Homo sapiens: one gene and its partner. The protein of the gene in region 1 binds, or shares a complex with, the protein of each later gene. Each region holds a gene or a part of one and is shown in the gene's direction. Other genes may lie near its edges.

Evidence for each region.
Region 2: the proteins of VGLL4 (region 1) and IRF2BP2 are in contact, whole or in part, in a crystal structure (PDB 8YTF), measured with the Homo sapiens proteins. Residues at the interface, in NP_055482.2 of Homo sapiens: Arg161, Ser163, Val164, Ile165, Thr166; in NP_892017.2 of Homo sapiens: Thr516 (codon at 7,173), His517 (codon at 7,176), Phe518 (codon at 7,179), Val519 (codon at 7,182), Gln520 (codon at 7,185), Pro522 (codon at 7,191), Phe531 (codon at 7,218), Leu557 (codon at 7,296), Trp564 (codon at 7,317), Ala565 (codon at 7,320), Phe566 (codon at 7,323), Met567 (codon at 7,326), Glu570 (codon at 7,335), Thr573 (codon at 7,344), Ile574 (codon at 7,347).

The regions. Positions count from the first base shown.
Region 1 is NC_000003.12:11,640,914-11,648,151, reverse strand, and holds the start of VGLL4 (transcription cofactor vestigial-like protein 4), read left to right. Parts: upstream 1-4,236; 5' UTR 4,237-4,633; coding exon 4,634-4,715; intron 4,716-7,238. UniProt on the Homo sapiens protein: May act as a specific coactivator for the mammalian TEFs.
Region 2 is NC_000001.11:234,607,179-234,614,527, reverse strand, and holds the start of IRF2BP2 (interferon regulatory factor 2-binding protein 2), read left to right. Parts: upstream 1-4,349; 5' UTR 4,350-5,033; coding exon 5,034-6,081; intron 6,082-6,675; coding exon 6,676-7,349. UniProt on the Homo sapiens protein: Acts as a transcriptional corepressor in a IRF2-dependent manner; this repression is not mediated by histone deacetylase activities. Represses the NFAT1-dependent transactivation of NFAT-responsive promoters.

The DNA.
Region 1 (7,238 bases):
AAAAGAACTAGCTTTTCCCATCTCATTTGTGTGTGTGGATAAAATTTAGACCCATCTTTCCAATTCCCTACAAAACTATCCTGTTGCTACTTTAATTATGAATATATTATCCTATGAATGAATCTGAGAAGGATTGATATTTTCTAGTATTTTTTTTTTTTTATGGATGAGCTGATTGTACCCTGAAGTACAATCAGAATCTACATGGTGTTTCTTAAAGGCAAGGACCTGTGGTCTCCAAGAGATGTTGACAGCCACCTAATGACATCGAGTAAGATAATCCAGAGTGTGCTGGAAGTAGGGATGGGGAAATGAAGAATCTGCCGTTTAGATGTTTACTGATTTTATTCAGCTGGTATTTATTGATGGCCTACCATGCGCCAGGCTTCTGCCAGACTTCTGCCAGACTGACCTCGAAAAGGTGAGGAAGGCATAGTCCTTGCTCCGAAGATCTAGGCTAGGAAAGAAGCACATATAAGGTATGGGTTGAGCGTCCTAATCCAAAAATCTGAAATGAAAAATGCTCCAAAATCTGAACAGTGTTGAGTGCTGACACAACATTCAGGTGAAAATGCTCATATTGGAGCATTTCAGATTTCAGACTTTAAAATTAGAGATGCTCAACTGGTAAGTATAATGCAACTATTCCAAAATCCAAGAAGGTCCGAAATCCAAAACACTTCTGGTCCAAGTATTTTGGATAAGGACTACTTACCCTGTAAAAGGATAGCTTGGCGTAGGGTGTGAGGAGATGGTAGGATGGGATCGTAGGGAGATTTCACAGGACAAGAGGGGCTTTCTGACAAGTCTCAAGGAAGAGTGGATGTTTGCTGAGTAGACAGGTTGGGAAAGAAGAGACGTCCTGCACACCGAGAAGCATACTGATGTGCTTTGTGGAATAACTCACTGCAGGTCATCCAGTGTGCTTGAAACTAAGGTGAAAGTTGTCAGGAGCTGGGATGGAAAGGCCTAGAGCCGGTCCAGGAGGCGCTCCCAGCCTGCAGAGGCGGGCTGTTGTAGCTGGCCCCTCTGGAGCACAAGCTTCTCTGTGAAACCAGGTTTGTTTCATTTTTCCCCAAGACTTTGTTGCAGACTGATAGTTTATAAAATGTAATGCAGCCCTATAACTAGAAATACGAAAACTACAGCCCTCAAATTTCTTTAATATTAAGATTTGAGAGACATAAAATTAGTCTATCGAATTGCTATAAAAGTTTTAAATGTTCATTCTCCGTTTCTGTATCTAGCTTTTGGGGACTAGGAACACCTGGTGCTCGAACCCCTCTGGATCACACTTGGGTAGCACCGTGCTAGCCTCCCGGATCAGCGGGAAAGACGTGGTGGCTGTGGCTGGGAATGTTACAATAGTCAAGGTAGACCTGTGAGACGGTGTCCACGAAAATGGTTGCCACCCGGAGGCTGAGAACTGCTGTTCTAAGTGATGCTGAGTCCCTTAAGGGACGTTACCAAATATTTTATTCATTTTCTACAATGGTATTGTTTGAATCATTTGCTTAAATTACTATTAAAAAAATTCTTCATGTCAAAATAAGTGAATAAAATGAAATATCTTAAGGCAGGGTTTTTTTTTTTTTCCTCCCTAGATGAAAGCAATGGTTCTCAACCTTGACTGCATATTGGAATCACCTGGGACTTTAGAAGCTACTGCTGCTGGTTCCCACCTCAGATGAGTTGGGGATGCAACCTCAGCAGCAAGATTTTTAAAAGCTCCCCCCTGGTTCTAATGTGCAGCCACCTCTCTTCCATGTGGGACAATGATGGATAAAGTTTTCTGATTGAGAATTTATGTAAAAACGTAGCACAGTAAGAGTACTCCAAAACTATCAGTTAAATTTAAATCTGATACCTGATATTGTTTGTTTTCAGTGCAATGATCTCATGTATACTGGATGTTACGAGTTTTGAGTTTTCTTCAACCCTCCCCACCAAATACCATTAAGTATTTTAATTACAATTGATAGGATACATATCTTTCACTATAGCTTATTACATGTAATATAGTGTCAATAAATATTCTTATAAATGAAAGCTTGTGAAATCTTGATTCCCCTATTACTTACTTCCCCTGATGTCACCCCAGTGATTACTGTTGCAGCAATGACGGCAACAGTATTTAGTATTTAGATGTCATATAGTTTTTTTGTTTTGTTTTGTTTTTTGAGACGGAGTCTTGTTCTGTCACCCAGGCTGGAGTGCAGTGGCACAATCTTGGCTCACTGCAGCCTCTGCCTCCCGTGTTCAAACAATTCTCCTGCCTCAGCCTCCCTAGTAGCTGGGATTACAGACACATGCCACTATGCCCGGCTAATTTTTGTATTTTTAGTAGAGACAGGGTTTCACCATGTTGGCCAGACTGTTCTCAAACTCCTGACCTCAAGTGATCCGCCCGTCTCAGTCTCCCAGAGTGCTGGGATTACACGCGTGAGCCACCGCATCCGGACTCCCAAGTAAGATTTCATTAGAACACCTTGCCATGAGTGTGCCTAATAAACCCAATGCAACTATTGCTGGATTTTTTTTTTTTTTTGAGACGGAGTCTCGCTCTGTCGCCCAGGCCGGACTGCGGACTGCAGACTGCAGTGGCGCAATCTTGGCTCACTGCAAGCTCCGCTTCCCGGGTTCACGCCATTCTCCTGCCTCAGCCTCCCGAGTAGCTGGGACTACAGGCGCCCGCCACCGCGCCCGGCTAATTTTCTGTATTTTTAGTAGAGACGGGGTTTCACCGTGTTAGCCAGGATGGTCTCGATCTCCTGACCTCATGATCCACCCGCCTCGGCCTCCCAAAGTGCTGGGATTACAGGCGTGAGCCACCGCGCCTGGCCTATTGCTGGATTTTTAACATACAACTCCTTCAAATTATTTATTCAAATATTATTTTGGAATATTAAAAATATATTTTTAGAATAGTAATTCAAATGTTTAGTTTTTGTTTTTTTTTTTTCTATTTTGTTAACACGTTCTTGATGTGCTGAAAACTGAACATTCAGTGGTTCACTCGTTCAGTAAACAGTTTTTGGGCACCTGAACTTGGTTGTGCTAGGCACTGGGTAATCAAAGTTTAAGCCCCAAGTTCTTCCAATAGCAAATAGTACAGCTGCATGCCACTAGCTTCTTACACACAGGTGGGTGACATACATGCCAAATGAAAATAATTTTACCCTTTCCCTCTATAATTTCAAGTACACTTTTAATTTTTGATATTATAGCCCTATTTGCTTAAACACTCTTCCATCTCTTCTCCTCTCCTTGTCTCCTTTTTTTCTTTTCTTTTTTTTTTTTTTTTTTGAGACAAAGTCTCACTCTGTTGCCCAGGCTGGAGTGCAGTGTCACGATCTTGGCTCACTGCATCCTCCTCCTCTCAGGTTCAAGCAATTCTCCCACCTCAGCCTCCTGAGTAGCTGGGACTACAGGCGTGCGCTACCACACCAGGCTAATTTATGTATTTTTAGTAGAGATGGGGTTTCACCATGCTGGCCAGGCTGGTCTTGAACTCTTGACCTCAAGTGATCCGCCTGCTTCGACTAGGATTACAGGTGTGAGCCACTACACCCGGCCCCCTCGTTTTTTTAAATAAAATTATAACATTAGGTGGGAAAAAACACTTTAAAAGTAGTTCTGTCAACTATTTTGGGGGCTGTGGGCCAGTCATTTAATCCATCTGAACCTGTTTCCTCTGCTGTGAAAGGGTGATACCCTCCTTGCCCTGTCCATCTCAGTTGTTATGGGGATTATGGAAGAAGCTATATGTAACATTAACATCAGAAATTTAAATATCCAGTTAAAGTGTAAATGGATATTATAAAACAATCTTTAAAAGAAACAAAGACACTATATATATATATATGGCTTATGCATCACTAGCACTTTGGGTTTCCGAAACCCCAACATGAAGTTTCACGAAAGTTGCATTCCATGGGAGTTTGCTTCCATGATGGATTTTTTACTTTGTACTTAGCTCCTGAAAAAGAAACTTCCTGGGTTTTCTTTTTTCCTCCTACGGTTTTGCAGCGGCTTGGCTGCTTCCTGTCAAGAGCCACTCTGCCAAGGCCCCGTCTCTAGAGTCTCTCCCCCTCCCCTTTCTCTTTCTTTCCAACACTTGCTACATTGAGAGGCTGATCCTGTGCAGAAGCCCTCCCTGCCTCGGCAGCGCGGCGCAGTGAGCATGCTCGGCCTCCTGCGGGAAGAGGAAGCGGCGGCATAGGAGTCATGCCAAGCATAGCCCTCATGTCAGCGCTGCCGGCTTGCAGCGGGCTGTGAGAGGGGCCGGCGCCGCTTTGTCCTAGGAAACGGGCTGCGCGTTTCTCTTTTTCACTCTTTTCCATTTCCAGGAAGGACTTGTAAGGACTTCTGAAACGCTGTTTTCATACTCGATCGGGGATACAGTACATACACCGTCTACCAGTAAGCCCTTGAAGGGTTTCGTGTGAGCTCGATTTTTTTGTGCCTGATTTTTTTTTTTTTAACTTTTGCATACTTTGTTTTGATAGTCTGAGGCTGGGCCTCTGCCTTTGTGAAGTTGAAGAGCCAGGAGCTACTCAGCAACAATTGATTTTTGAAACTTAACTCTTTTGGGGCAAAAGCAAAGAGCTGGTTTTCTTTGCTAGCCCAATAAATGCTATTTATGAAGATGGACCTGTTGAACTATCAGTACTTGGACAAGATGAACAACAATATCGGCATTCTGTGCTACGAAGGTAGATGTCCCGTTGTAGAATTACTGCCCGTTGCTCGTCCCGGCCACTCCTCCTCAGTGTGCTGGGTGCCTGCCTTCTAAGCGCCCGCTGTCCTCCTCCGGGGTGTAGGGCACTTGAAAGGCCGGCGTTTCTTAGGTTCGGTTCGGCACCGAGTGTGTTCGGATCTCAGGCTGCGGGGGGCGGTGGAGGGGGCTGGACGGGGAGGCAGTGAAGTAGAAACCCTTCAAAGTTTGCTCGTTGCTTGCAACGTACTCGCGCCTCACATTTTTAACTCTTTAAAATGTATGTATTTTTGATTTCCGTTAATATTGTCTTTAGGGGAAGGACTTGTAGGACGCCGGTAAAAGTTGAGCCTCTTTGGGGGAGGGGCTGGTAAGGATTGCACCGTCTACTGTACCCTGCTGTGGGCCACGGCGCCCTGCAGCTCACGGAGGGGGAGCCAAAGTTACAGCGAGTTTTTGTGCTCGCGAGTGAGCGTCCCAAACAGCGGAGAATGTCCCTCTCCCGCGTGGGGCCGGAAGGGCACCGTGTCAGCGAGCACAGGCGGGCTCTTTGTCTCGCTGGCGCTTCCTGTGCAGCCCGGGGAGCGCTGACACTGGGGGGTGTTCCTCGCGCTCCGCTCCCTGTGGGAGCGATTACACAACACCCCGACCCCCAGCCTGCCCTGAAAAAGAGAGAGCCGCGCCGAACTGTTATTTATTACCTCCTACTGCCCGCGAGGTGCTTCCCCCACTGTCTTGTATTTCCAACTGTCTCTGGTAGCAGTCAGAGAAAAATCTATTTCTTAAGCCCTCGGACATCCTCTACGTGCGATTTGAAAAAGTGGCAATGGCCCTGGGTCTGCCGCCGAGGGCATCTCCGGGGGAGTTCGGCCTGGCAGGAAGAGTGTTTTCTGTTGTAACCACACACACATCCGGGACTCTTCTCTTTCTCATTCAGCAGGAGCAGTTTCCATTTTTTCTCCAATAATACACGGGACATTTCTCTTGAAAAAGAAAACAGTTACAAAAACTTGGGAGGGTGATTCACTTGTATTTTTTTAATCTAAAAACTTCAGGCCTGTTTCCTAATCAGTTGAAAACTCACCCTTTCAAGAGTATTTTTCCCCTTCAAGGAAAAAAAACAACAACAACCCTCATTCACGTTGTTTTTTAAAACTCTATGGATGAGGATCTCATATTTAACGTTTTTTAAAAAGAGTATTTGTTTTTCTTTACTCCTACTAGTTCCTGCTATGAGAATTTTCGTGAATTTCTTTCTTTGCATCTGATGTGTTAAGTAACATCTTGCTTCTGAACTCACTTAAAAAAGGCAGCCGACTTTAGAAAGCCGTAAGCAGCCATTGCTGGGCTTGTTTCCCGTGACATTCACACATTGTAGTCAGGGTTTTGTTTTTCTTGTTTTTTTTTTTTTTAACCATCCCCGCTTCCCCCAACAAGAAAGAAAAACTTCTGAGGCAATTTCTGTTGTATTGTCTTTGCCAACAAGTAATACGATATTTTAAAAACAAAACATAATGGCCTAAGAGAGAAATATAAGATTGTTAGGAAATTGATACCAGATTAGTTTTTCCTGTCTCCGATTGGTGAGGACCAACTTACGGACAGCGAGCCCAGGTCGAGTTGTTGTGTAGCATGCAACACCCAGGAAACTAGAGTGCTCTGCTCTGCTCTTCTCTCTCGGTATTTGGGAGGAAGAAACTTTGATTTTGAAGATTGAGTAGCTATATGGGATAATGGGCTGAAGTCTGTTTGGTTTAAACATCTGCTCCTATTTTCCTTATTATGAGAGTTAACATTATTTTAACACCAGAATAAATACAGAGGAAATGAAGGAAAGCACAGCAAAATTTGAGTGGTGTTTATAGTGAATTGTTGATGTCCTAGTGGTTTTCTCAGTGTAAACACTGCACACATCTGGTCTGAACTCCAGAGGGTGTTTTGAAGATGGGCATAAATCACACACGGGATTTTTTTGTAGGAAAAGTTGGAAAGGTTATGGTTCTTTAAAATCCAACACTTGGACTTGGAGAATATTCGTTTTAAACATATCAGCTCCCCAGCATTCCAGGGAAGTTGTTTGGAAAATGGAATGTACTGTTGGTAGGCAACATTTGATTTCATTTAGGGCACAGTCAAGTTTCATGCCCCTTAAGAATAAGGGACAAATTAATTTTATGACATTTTAGTTTTAAAAATTAAGATGCGGATGGTTAATTATTCTTACCAGCTAAATTATACCATATTCCTTAGTTGTATGAGACATAGCTCTACTCTAAAATAAACCATGTGTCTGGTCTTTTTTTTTTTTTTTTTTTTGGTGATGAAGTCTCGCTCTTGTCCCCCAGGCTGGAGTGCAATGGCGCGATCTTGGCTCACTGCAACCTCTGCCTCCCGGGTTCAAGCCATTCTCCTGCCACAGCCTCCTGAGTAGCTGGGATTACAGGTGCCTGCCACCATGCCCGGCCCATTTTTGTATTTTTAATAGAGATGGGTTTCACCATGTTGGGCAGGCTGGTTTCAA
Region 2 (7,349 bases), on another chromosome or scaffold:
GGCTTCAGTGAGTGTTTTAAATATTCTAAGTTAAACCCACATCCAGATATTCCAGAAAAGTGCATTTCATCCTGCTTTTTCCAAAAAGTCAATAGGAGGTTTACTGGCATCAAATGGCTGTTGAATCCCTTCCAGTTCTACAAATTTCCTTGCAGACTGAGCAAGTGTGTGACCTCAATCTCTCCTTTGTCTATTTTGTCTGTTTCTCACTTAGCTCTTTAAATTCTGACACAGTGAGTATTTAACCTTCATCAAGATCCCAAATTTTGCTCTAAATAGGGACCTATACATACGTTGACATATAGGCTGCCGACTAACAGCTTCTGTGTACAATATGTGGATGATTAAGAGCTCCTGTGATTTTATCTGGCTTGATTCTTAGACCCTCCACAGAGAGTTTATCTCCTCCACATGCAAAAGTCTCTTTAATATCTGTATGCTCTGTGCACAGGGGAGGTAGGCTATAGAGAGAGGTCAAACAGAGGGAAAGTATTTCTAAAAAAGAATATTTGCAATTTGAAAAACAGTAAGATTGTCTCATAAAATGCTGTTACTAAGAAGGAAGACTCTCATATCAATTACAGAAGGTTCATTTATGTCATGGTGCTCCATAGTATGTGTAGATATATTCATATAAACAAATGTGTTCAAATATATATAACTTATTTAAAAAATTGGAAAAGCCCTGAATATCACGTGTGCTCTTCAAACCTTACGACACTTTTGCCAAAGCTGAAGAAACCCGCAATGATGTCCACAGAAATCCAGATGAAATGTGGCTGCATTTTTTCTCTTCTTCAAATACGCCAAGATCAGAGTTTAAGAAGCTTTAGCATGGTTGCAACATCATGCTATTTAAGGAAACTGCACTCTAAAGAATGAAGGCTGTGATTCCACCTCTGGATAGAGGGTGAAAGCCACGAACTCAGCAGTTCCTAGGAATACCATCTATCTCCTGGACAGCACCCACAAGCTGCTGGGGGAATGGGGTTGCACCCCTCTTGCAGCTGCATAACCTGGGGGCAAAGTTCCAATAAGGTACTCTTGTAGGAACCGTTTCTTTACACTGCTCTATAGACTGTCAGTTCAGGGCTTCCGTGTGTTAATAGCTGCTTGACTGGAGTAAGCTCTGGAAACCAGATTCAGATTTTAGATGTTTAACGTTCACGCAGTAGAAGCCCGTTTCAATCTCAGTGTCGGAAGGTCACATTAGTTCTACCCATTGAGCTATCGCTTACAACTGCTCTCTTAGGTTTGCCTTCCAAGCCACTTCCTTATTCCTGCTTTTCTGATAGTGTCATACTGAATGGCTTTCCTTTTACTCCTACACTGTGATTTTTATTTAAAAAAAAAAACAACTCTCAGAAATTAGAGCTGGAAAGGACTGTTGGTTTGTCTAGTCTCAGCAGGAGTGTTCTCCATAGAATATTTCCTTTAGTCCTTAAGACAAATTGCAACATTTTAGTGTTCTGGTGAAAAGCCAGCCTCATCCCGCTGCGTCGCCGACACTTGGCCCAGCATCTGCCTGCCTGTCCGTATATGAATGTGCAGGAGCACACTGCAGCCAACCCGGTAACCTTGACTCTGGGTGGCAAAGATGATCATAATTCTCTTTTGAGAGGACCTGGTGCCTCAAGCAAGAGGGCAGAGTCTACGTGACTAAAACATACCAACTTCCTCTTTCATAAGTCATCACATGATGAACTACAATTACAATTCCTGCCTTGTCTCTGCGAATTGCAGACGCATTGCCTCACCCTAGAAACCCTGCTCCTGTGTGTGGAGGAGGCGGCTGTAACTGCTGCAGCAGCCGCTTTGGATGGGATCCAACTCCAGTCTGTGCCGGGAGGGAGCGGTGGGTGGAAGACAAAAACAAAGCTATGTTTACTTAGCATACATCGATAAAGCTGCTTCAGAGCTACATGAAAGGCCAGGCTGCATGAAAGACTTCTGATACAATATAAGGAATTGCTGCCCTGAATCCAGCCTTAACCCCCTTGATTCCGGATCGAGCCCAGAACTAAAATAGCCCTTCCATTTTCCATCGGGCATTTCATTAGGGAAGTTACAACAACTCAGTTTCGACATGAAACTGGCAGTGTAAAATAAGAAGGAAATGCTCTTCCTTTGGAGAAGAAAAGCTCCGTTTTGCAAAGATCTTAGTATCGTGGCAGAATTTCTATCTCTAATTCTATTTTAGGATGGAGTGGCAGGCTCTCCCCTTGAGGCCATTACAGTACCAGCTTGCAGAGAAATGAGTATAATTAGGCCACAACTCTAATGGTGAGTTGTGTTTTCTTTTAGTATGTTTCAGTCAATGCTTAGTGGGGCCGTCTCTTGGGGGCGATGAGTTGGTTCATTTCTCTGCAGCACAAGGACTGGACTTCATCCCCTTTGGGCAGTGACGCAGTGGGTGAAGGCATGTACTGGAATGAGTGTCACAGGGTCTCTGAGGAGGGTGACCAAAGGGACAGGTCTTGAAAGCGGTGTGCAACAGCAGGGCCTGGGAGTGACCAAACCCGCTGGCACCAGCTACTCCCGGGAAGGATCTGGACAGGCCCCATTCTCCCAGCTTGGAGAGGGTGAGGCAGGATTGCAATTGCAGGGCAAGATCCAGGAACAGATGCAGAGACCTTTAAAACAGGCGCACCTTCTATGGAAATCCCCAAAAGACATTCAAGGTTAGCCTGTAAAAACATTTAGGTCTGACATTACGTTTTCTGTGCCATTTTCGAACAGGTTTTTTCATGTGTTTTAAGCAGCTCCCTCCACTGTTTCTCTAAGGGTGTTTTTCCTCTTCCTTGTGGTTAATCCTTTGAAGCAACCTGGTATTTTCAATAGCAACGACTAGAGAGAAACGTCAGCATGATTTTTTTTTTCTCTCCACCTACCAATCCAGTTGTAGGAAAGATAATATAATTAGTACCCTGTTCTTCCCACACTTAACCAGCTCATTCCAGTCTCAAGGGAGAGTTGTGGGCCTGTGTTCCCAACAAAAGCAGCTCCAGAGGCCGCCCTTAAAGAGCTTAAGTGTAAAAGTCCCAATTGAAGAGCGACTAAGCCTACGTGTATTAGGGAGACTAACGACCAGCCCAAAGTGATTTACCATAACACACACTAGCTCCTCCTCCCGATAAAAGTGCGAAACTCAAACATTCAATTCAGTCTGGGCTGAGTCTGAGGCTGCCAACGGTGGCAGACCTGCAGGCCGGGCTCATCCCGGCCTGGGTGGCATATAGGGCAAAAGTCCGCCTCCGTCGGCGGCCCGCCCTGCGGGACGGCGGGCCAGCCAGCCAGCCGGTCGCCCCCACGGCCCTCGGGAACCTCGCGGAGGCGAGCAGGACCCCCCCCCCCCCCACTCGCGCCCTCGCCTCCCGCCACCTCGAGTCCAAGTTCGGGCCCGGGGGCGGCGCCTCGACGCCCAGACTCGCCGAAGGGGGTGGAGCCTGCGCTGTGACGCGGCCGCGCTGGCCGTAGACCCCGGATCCCTGGAATGTGCATTCGTTCCACGAGGCCCTAGTGCCAGCGGCGCCGAGGCACGTCTGCGCGGAGCGTGCGCACTCGCGGCGGCGGCCGCCCACGGCCCCGCGCCCACGTCACGCGCCCGCCGCGCATACCTACATAAGGCAGCCGGGGCGACTGGCGCGGCGAGGCCCCCGATGAACAGGGCGGGCTGGACGGGGCTAAGAGCGGCACTTGGTGTTCGGGAGAGGCTAGTCCGAACCGCGCTCCCTCCCCTCCAGAGGGCTCCGTGGAAAACGCGCGAGCCAGCTGGCGGCGTGTGCACGTGGTGCTGGGCTTGGGAATATTCACAGTCTCCCTAGTTAGTAAAAGGGACAGGCGGGGCGTATGTCCTTTCCAAGACAAATGCAAAGCACCAGTGACGGATTTCATGCTATGTGTCCGACATTGAGCTTTCAAGTATAACTCCTAAAAAACCAGAACTGTGAACCACGCTAGACCTAAATTCCCCATTCTCAGGAGACTGACGGAAACCAAGTGACAAAGTGTCCTTGCATAAAAGAAAAAAAATGATTTTTAGCACGATTTGGCCCAGAGGCACACCAGAGGAAAACATCCTGAGGGTGGTCGGGACAGCCGGGTGGGGCGCGAAGTGAGGGAAAGTGGAGGAAAAGCACTCGATCACTTTGCGCGGTGTTCCGAAGGGAACACCGGCGCTGCGCTGCTGCGCTGCCCCGCGGGCGGGCGGGCGCCGCGTAGCCGGCTCTCCCGGCAGCGCTCCTTCGGCGCGCGGGGGGAGGGGGAGCGCGCGCGCGGGAGGGCGGGCACGCGCACGAGGGGAGGGGGCCCGCGCAGGCGCCGTGCGAGACTGTCGAAGAATCAAGTCTGTAGAAGTGGAGCGGTCGCGGCGGCAGCAGCAGCAGCGACGGTGGCGGCGGCGGAGCTGAGGCGGGCTGGCCGCTGACGCTGGCGCTGGAGAGCGGCGACGCCAGGAGCTGTGAGAGAGCGGCGGAGCGACCCGGGGCCCGCGCCGCGCCCGAGCTCCACGCCGCCCGGCCGCCGCCACCCCGGCGCGGCATGCCCCGCCGCTCGGGCTGAGCCTGCCCCGGCGGCCGCCCCCCGCCCCCTGCCCCCCCGGCCTCCCCGCCCCCCGCCCCGCACTCCGTGCCGGCCGCCGCCGCGACCTGCTGCGCTCCCCCGCGCCCGCGCGGCCCGTCTTCGCCCCGGTCTGGAGGCCCGCCGCGGCTCCGGCCGAGCCCCCACCGCCGCGCCCGCCGCCCCGCCGCGCCGCGCCGCCCGCCCGTGCCCGGGCCGGCCGGGGGGAACTGCTGCCGCGGCTGCAGCCCCTCACCTCGCGCCCGCCGCCCCTCGTGCACCGGGGGCGCTGCGCGGGCGCCGAGCCTTCGCGGGCTTTGCCGCCGCCGCCGCCGCCTTTGCGGCCGCCGCCGCCGCTGGTGGGGGAGACGCGGGGTTGGGGGGGGAGGAGGGCGCGCGTGGTGCCGGTGGGGGGCGGCGGCGGCGCCCCCTCCTCCTCCTCCGCCTCCTCCTCCGGCGTCGCGGGCTCCTCGGACATGGCCGCGGCGGTGGCGGTGGCGGCCGCGTCCCGGCGGCAGTCGTGCTACCTGTGTGACCTGCCCCGCATGCCCTGGGCCATGATCTGGGACTTCACCGAACCCGTCTGCCGCGGCTGCGTCAACTACGAGGGCGCCGACCGCGTCGAGTTCGTCATCGAGACGGCGCGGCAGCTCAAGCGGGCGCACGGCTGCTTCCCGGAGGGTCGCTCCCCACCCGGCGCCGCGGCCTCGGCCGCCGCCAAGCCGCCGCCGCTCTCCGCCAAGGACATCCTTTTGCAGCAGCAGCAGCAGCTTGGCCACGGCGGCCCCGAGGCGGCCCCGCGCGCGCCGCAGGCCTTGGAGCGCTACCCGTTGGCGGCCGCGGCCGAGAGGCCCCCGCGCCTCGGCTCTGACTTCGGCAGCAGCCGCCCGGCAGCGAGCCTGGCCCAGCCGCCGACGCCGCAGCCGCCGCCCGTGAACGGCATCCTGGTGCCCAACGGCTTCTCCAAGCTAGAGGAGCCGCCCGAGCTGAATCGCCAGAGCCCGAACCCGCGGCGCGGCCACGCGGTGCCGCCCACCCTGGTGCCGCTCATGAACGGCTCGGCCACGCCGCTGCCCACCGCGCTCGGCCTCGGCGGCCGCGCTGCCGCCTCCTTAGCCGCGGTGTCCGGAACCGCGGCCGCCAGCCTGGGCTCCGCGCAGCCCACCGATCTGGGCGCCCACAAGCGGCCGGCATCCGTGTCGAGCAGCGCTGCCGTGGAGCACGAGCAGCGTGAGGCGGCAGCCAAGGAGAAACAACCGCCGCCGCCTGCGCACCGGGGCCCGGCCGACAGCCTGTCCACCGCGGCCGGGGCCGCCGAGCTGAGCGCGGAAGGTGCGGGCAAGAGCCGCGGGTCTGGAGAGCAGGACTGGGTCAACAGGCCCAAGACCGTGCGCGACACGCTGCTGGCGCTGCACCAGCACGGCCACTCGGGGCCCTTCGAGAGCAAGTTTAAGAAGGAGCCGGCCCTGACTGCAGGCAGGTTGTTGGGTTTCGAGGCCAACGGGGCCAACGGGTCTAAAGCAGGTAGGGGCGGCTGTGAAGTGAGGGGGTCTAGGGGAGAAAAGGGGACGGAGAGCAGAGGAAGGGTGGTTCTTTGGATTCACCATTTTACCCCAGCCCAGAAACAACAAACACCCCACTTCCTGATCTGCCTGAGGCGGAACCAGTGCTTGGTGGCAACGTGTTCATGTGCTGAAGCAGCATAACAGAGATGAGTCAGACTGGGCTGATACGCTCTGACACGGGGTTTTCCTTTCCCAGCACATTCTTGGATGGGAGCATGAGGGCACCAGTCACCTTTTAACCTATTGGGGGACATTAGCAGTCACATGTTGAGTGCAAACGAGGGTACTTTTGTGCATGTGTACAAACAGGCAGTTACAAGCGTGTCATTTTCAGTGGCTCCATTTTAAATCAGTCTGCTGCCTCAGAATCCCGTACGCCTGAAGGTTTTAAGTTGCATGTGCACCTGAAACTCGTATATGAGTATTTTCTGTCTGTGCTTTTAGAGAGGAGGAATTCTGTAACGACTTTTGTTTCGGGTTAGGAAGAGAATGATCTCTTTCAGTGCACCGCCACTTATGTTACCTTTTTCCTTTTATTTCTTTGTGTTTCCAGTTGCAAGAACAGCAAGGAAAAGGAAGCCCTCTCCAGAACCAGAAGGTGAAGTCGGGCCCCCTAAGATCAACGGAGAGGCCCAGCCGTGGCTGTCCACATCCACAGAGGGGCTCAAGATCCCCATGACTCCTACATCCTCTTTTGTGTCTCCGCCACCACCCACTGCCTCACCTCATTCCAACCGGACCACACCGCCTGAAGCGGCCCAGAATGGCCAGTCCCCCATGGCAGCCCTGATCTTAGTAGCAGACAATGCAGGGGGCAGTCATGCCTCAAAAGATGCCAACCAGGTTCACTCCACTACCAGGAGGAATAGCAACAGTCCGCCCTCTCCGTCCTCTATGAACCAAAGAAGGCTGGGCCCCAGAGAGGTGGGGGGCCAGGGAGCAGGCAACACAGGAGGACTGGAGCCAGTGCACCCTGCCAGCCTCCCGGACTCCTCTCTGGCAACCAGTGCCCCGCTGTGCTGCACCCTCTGCCACGAGCGGCTGGAGGACACCCATTTTGTGCAGTGCCCGTCCGTCCCTTCGCACAAGTTCTGCTTCCCTTGCTCCAGACAAAGCATCAAACAGCAGGGAGCTAGTGGAGAGGTCTATTGTCCCAGTGGGGAAAAATGCCCTCTTGTGGGCTCCAATGTCCCCTGGGCCTTTATGCAAGGGGAAATTGCAACCATC